Regions from separate parts of the Homo sapiens genome. Here region 1 is linked to region 2. Evidence: fine-mapped expression QTL. Tissue or cell type: tibial nerve. Region 2 holds a variant in brackets; the other region holds the start of a gene. All regions are shown on one strand. Distances are between the middles of the regions.

Region 1 (2,803 bases), 34 kb after region 2:
GATGGGTAATTTCATGTTCCAACGGAACAATAAAAAACTCATAATCGGCCAGGCACGGTGGCTCACACCTGTAATCCCAGCACTTTGGGAGGCCAAGGCGGGCGGGTCACGAGGTCAAGATCTTGATCGAGACTATCCTGGCCAACATGGTGAAACCCCGTCTCTACTAATAATACAAAAATTAGCTGGGTGTCGTGGCACGCGCCTGTAGTTCCAGCTACTCGGGAGGCTGACGCAGGAGAATCGCTTGAACCTGGGAGGCAGAGGTTGCAAGTGAGCCGAGATCGCGCCACTGCACTGGAGCCTGGCGACAGAGCGAGACTCCGGATCAAAAAAAACCAAAACCAAAACCAAAAAAAAACCTATCAAAGTGACTTTGAAATTTGTGTATAAACACTGATATACATCTTTTAATACTTTGCTTTTCACTTTTATGCCTCCAGGTTACTACAGCTAAGAAGAGAAAACATATACATATGAGTGTGTGTACACACACACACACGCATATAACTTTTTAAAATTCAGAAGTTGAAAGGTCCAGAACGATAGTAAGAAACTAACGTAGAATAGCCACAGGTGATTAATAACACGTTTCATGAAAGGCACATGGAAATAAATGGCAACAAAAGCTACTTTCATGGTAATCTCACATCCCACGAATACTGAAATGAAAATCGCCGCGGCAATGGACTGTGGTTCAGGTGGAACACGTTCTCGTTCGCTAAGGAGATTGATGCTTTTCATCTAAAAGCAGCGCTCATGGCGAAGAGGCTTAAGGCCACAAAACCGTGGGACAGCAGGAGGAAGAGAAGCCAGGTATCTCCACTCCAGCTGCCCTGCCTCAGACTCCTCAGTTTCGCACGTGAGGATCGTCTTGCAGGCACTGACTGGAGATGGAATCCTAAAGCATAGGTGAAGCGGAAATCCTCCTTCAGGGAGAGCCCACTGAGGAAGCCAGCGGCTAGCACGAGGCAGGACAGGATACCTCCCTCTTCGCCCACGGCGGCCTCTCTGTCATAGTAGCCACCGTTCTGCCACTCATGCAGCTTTCTAAGACACCTCTCGGTTCCCCAGCGCTTTCAGTGGGGCGGCCGGCCATTCCCGAGGGTTGCAAGAGGAGGCCCGGGGTGCTGAGCCAGCCTCGCTGCCCCCGCGTAGAAAGCCGGCCCGCCGGCGAGAGCCAGCCTAAGGCGCGGACAACCAACGAGGTGTCAGGCTCGGCAGGGGATTGCTTCTGTCTGGGGCCCGGCCGAGGTTGCGTTCGTGCCTCGCGCGCACACGCTCCGCGTTCACTCAGCCAATCCGGTGCTACTCGCGCGCCCAGGAGCGATCCGCGGTCCTACTCAGGCTGGGCCGGCTCCTTCCCGCTCCCAATACTCAGCACCCGAGCTCTCACTCCTCCCCTCACTCTCCACGAGTTCCACGCCTAGGGGTGTAGCTCCGCCCTTGTCCCCGAGTCCGCCCCCGCAACCTCCAGAGCGTGTGCTATCCTTTCCTCTCAGTCCTGCCATCTAGCTGCCTTGGGTCTCGCGCTCCGCAGAGCGTTCCGACACTCTCCGGCCTCGTTCTGCCGCCTCCGCGCGCTCTCCCCGTGCGGCCACCGCGCCCCCCAAGCTTGCCTCCTTCTTGCCGGACTTGGGGCCGCGCGCCCTGACTCCTTCCCCTCCCGCGGACCCGCGCACTCCCGGCGCGGCCTCTCCCCCACGCAGGCCACCGTGCACTCTGTGGCCTCCCCCTCCTTCCCCGCTCTCCTCGCGCTTCTCTGGCTCCCTAGCTGTCGCGCTCTCCTCGGCGAGCGCGCTCCCGGCCCGCGCGCTCCGGGCTCCGGTTTCTCCCGGCTCCTGTCAGTGCGGTGACTGCGCTGGGAAACATGGCGACCGAGGGAATGATCCTTACTAACCACGACCATCAAATCCGTGTCGGAGTCCTTACAGGTAACCGGGGGAGGAGGTCTGGGACCTATGAGGCTGCTGTCCCTGCATTGCCTTAGGCTTTTCGCCTGTGGTGGCCCTTCTCTGCGGCCTCGGGAGGAGGGAAGGCTGAAGAAGGGAACCGCGGGGGTGCATTTTACAACCGCTGAGAACCGCCGGAGATTGGGGGTGTTCCCGCGGGTCCCCTCCCCCAGGCCCCAGGAGCCGGGGTCGACCCCGTGGGATGTTAGGCCCCAGCGCCTTCGGAAGCAAAGTCCTGGGCCCCCGGGGACCGAGGGGCCGGTGCGGAGGGCGCTGCGGGGCTCCGCGCTGTCGGTGCAGGCGGCGGGATCCCGGCTCCGCAGTCTGAAGCATGCCGCTCTCGGCTGGCCTGGGCGCATCCTCCGCTAGTGCTCTTCAGAGAGAGGGGGGAATCCCATCTCCACCCCCTTCCTCTCCTTCCCTTCCCCCCACCTGGGCGGCCCCACGCCAGTATCTGTGCTTGCCTGGACGAGACTCAGGTGTTAATCAGATGAAACTGCTCCTCCTCGGGTTGTCCCTCGCGGGCCGGGCGTCCCCTCAGCCACCCATGGGGCACCCTTCGCCTCCCTCGGGGGATGGGGGATCGGCTTGCGTCCGGACCTCGGAAAGTGTCTGCCTTCTGCCTTTCCGCGCAAAAGGCCCTCTGTCTGCCTCGTCGTTTCCTTAGCGAGGACGGGCTGCAGCCTGCTGCCGGGGATCCAGCTTTTTACTTGAGAGGGCAGGATTCCCCTACTCGGGCTCCTCTCCCCCTCCTTTCTGGGAACCCCCACCCCGGTAGAGCGTCCCGAGGCTGGTGAGGAGCGCACTTTTCCCGGGTCGCGTTTCCCTCCCTCGCGAAAGCCGTGTGTGTT
Region 2 (2,803 bases):
TTTTATTCAGACTAGACTCACTAGGGACTTTTCAAAGTTCTAGATTTATAAGAAAAAAATACTTGAAATTGAAAAGTAGGAGTAATATATAGGGATCAAAGTTTGAGTCAATTTTTTTTCAGTAAAATGAACTAGTGATGCAATCGTTCCAGGGATTTAAAAGAGTTTCCTCAAATGTATCTGGGGGATAAGAAACACTGAAGAGAAAATAGGCCTAGTAATAAATGACAAATGAGATGAAATGAGATTTTGAAATAGTTGGGCTACTGAACTGACTTTTTAAATAGATATTTTAACAAGAAAAACAAAAAAGGGGCTAAGAACAGAGAAGGAACAACAGTTGTCAGCAGAATGCTGATAAATAGCAAGCAAGGGAATTCAGTCCTTGCAAAAATAAGGATTTTCCAAATCAGCAAACTTGGGGGATATGCCTTGCCACGGGGGATAAGAAAGAACTGAGTAATTTATATTCTGAATCACATTTTCTCTTACGTTTTCATTCAGCCAGGATAATCAAACCATATTATAAACCCCAGAAACTGCTTTAACATGCAAAACATGCAAAACACCTGGCTTGCATTCTCACTCCTAATATCCTCAGATAATCACACATGCTTTTAACAAACAAATTTAATTATCTACAAATGCCAAGCACTCTAGTAGGTATTACAAATACAAAGAAGCATTAGCACCTTTCCCAAATCATTCCACCCACCTTGGAATTACACTTAGCTTGGAAATCATTCCATTCACCTTGGAACACTCACTCAGTTTTGACCCAGGACCCCATCTGCCCTTCAAAGCAAGAAGGTTTGTTGAAGATCCAATGGCTGCAGGTATATGGTCTACGTTTGTAGTACAGTATGAAATAAAAGAGGATACAAACAAATGGAAGAACATTCCATGCTCATGGGTAGGAAGAATGAATATCATGAAAATGGTCACACTGCCCAAGGTAATTTATAGATTCAATGCCATCTCCATCAAGCTACCAATGTCTTTCTTCACAGAATTGGAAAAAACTACTTTAAAGTTCATATGGAACCAAAAAAGAGCCCGCATTGCCAAGTCAATCCTAAGCCAAAAGAACAAAGCTGGAGGCATCACGCTACCTGACTTCAAACTATACTACAAGGACACAGTAACCAAAACAGCATGGTACTCATACCAAAACAGAGATATAGACCAATGGTACAGGACAGAGCCCTCAGAAATAATAGCACACATCTACAACTATCTGATCTTTGACAAACCTGACAAAAACAAGAAATGGGGAAAGGATTCCCTATTTAATAAATGGTGCTGGGAAAACTGGCTAGCCATATGGAGAAAGCTAAAACTGGATCCCTTCCTTACACCTTATACAAAAATTAATTCAAGATGGATTAAAGACTTACATGTTAGACCTAAAACCATAAAAACCCTAGAAGAAAACCTAGGCAATACCATTCAGGACATAAGCATGGGCAAGGACTTCATGTCTAAAACACCAAAAGCAATGGCAACAAAAGCCAAAATTGACAAATGGGATCTAATTAAACTAAAGAGCTTCTGC[A/G]CAGCAAAAGAAACTACCATCAGAGTGAACAGGCAACCTACAGAATGGGAGAAAGTTTTTGCAATCTACTCATCTGACAAAGGGCTAATATCCAGAATCTACAAAGAACTCAAACAAATTTACAAGAAAAAAACAAACAACCCCATCAACAAGTGGGCAAAGGATATGAACAGACACTTCTCAAAAGAAGACAGTTATGCAGCCAAAAGACACATCAAAAAATGCTCATCATCACTGGCCATCGGAAAAATGCAAATCAAAACCACAATGAGATACCATCTCACACCAGTTAGAATGGTGATCATTAAAAAGTCAGGAAACAACAGGTGCTGGAGAGGATGTGGAGAAATAGGAACACTTTTACACTGTTGGTGGGACTGTAAACTAGTTCAACCATTGTGGAAGCCAGTGTGGCGATTCCTCAGGGATTTAGAACTAGAAATACCATGTGACCCAGCCATCCCGTTACTGGGGATATACCCAAAGGAGTATAAATCATGCTGCTATAAAGACACATGCATACGTATGTTTATTGCGGCAATATTCACAATAGCAAAGAGTTGGAACCAACCCAAATGTCCAACAACGATAGACTGGATTAAGAAAATGTGGCACATATACACCATGGAATACTATGCAGTCATAAAAAATGATGAGTTCATGTCCTTTGTAGGGACATGGATGAAGCTGGAAATCATCATTCTCAGCAAACTATCACAAGGACAAAAAACCAAACACCACATGTTCTCACTCATAGGTGGGAATTGAACAATGAGAACACATGGACACAGGAACGGGAACATCACACATGGGGGCCTGTTGTGGGGTGGGGGGAGGGGGGAGGGGATAGCATTAGGAGATACACCTAATGTAAATGACGAGTTAATGGATGCAGCACACCAACATGGCACATGTATACATATGTAACAAACCGGCACCTTGTGCACATGTACCCTAGAACTTAAAGTATAATTAAGAAAAAAGAAAATAGTTATTTTTAACTTAAAAAGCTTATATATGTTCATTATAAAAAACTTGAAAAACTCAGAAAAATAGAATAATAATATAATCATGAAGAATATTTTGATTTTAATGCATTTTCTTCATCTTCTAAACACGCACATATATACACACATACAGACTACACTGTTCCATATTGTTTTATTTGATGTACTTTGACGTACTCTTTTTATTAAGTATCCTTCCAAATATTATTTTAATGACTCTATTGCATTCCCTTGTATGGAT

Direction of the effects. Alleles are on the strand shown, and positions count from the first base shown. SD is a standard deviation of normalised expression in the study named.
For the expression in tibial nerve of the gene that starts at base 1,490 in region 1, allele G in region 2 goes with a lower level than allele A (small effect, 0.22 SD a copy in GTEx).

What was found.
Region 1: GPHN starts here. The variant in region 2 is fine-mapped to the expression of GPHN in tibial nerve (GTEx, PIP above 0.99).

Annotation. Positions count from the first base shown.
Region 1 is chr14:66,506,658-66,509,460 of GRCh38, forward strand. GPHN (gephyrin) reads left to right here and starts at 1,490. Exons shown (of 23, transcript NM_020806.5): 1 at 1,490-1,934. The coding sequence starts at 1,871. RefSeq lists silencers at 1,535-1,724, 2,075-2,224 and enhancers at 2,315-2,474, 2,725-2,774.
Region 2 is chr14:66,473,041-66,475,843 of GRCh38, forward strand. No RefSeq gene overlaps it. Among named protein-coding and RNA genes, the nearest start is that of CCDC196, 12 kb to the right of the region's middle. The variant A/G (reference allele first, on the strand shown) is at 1,556.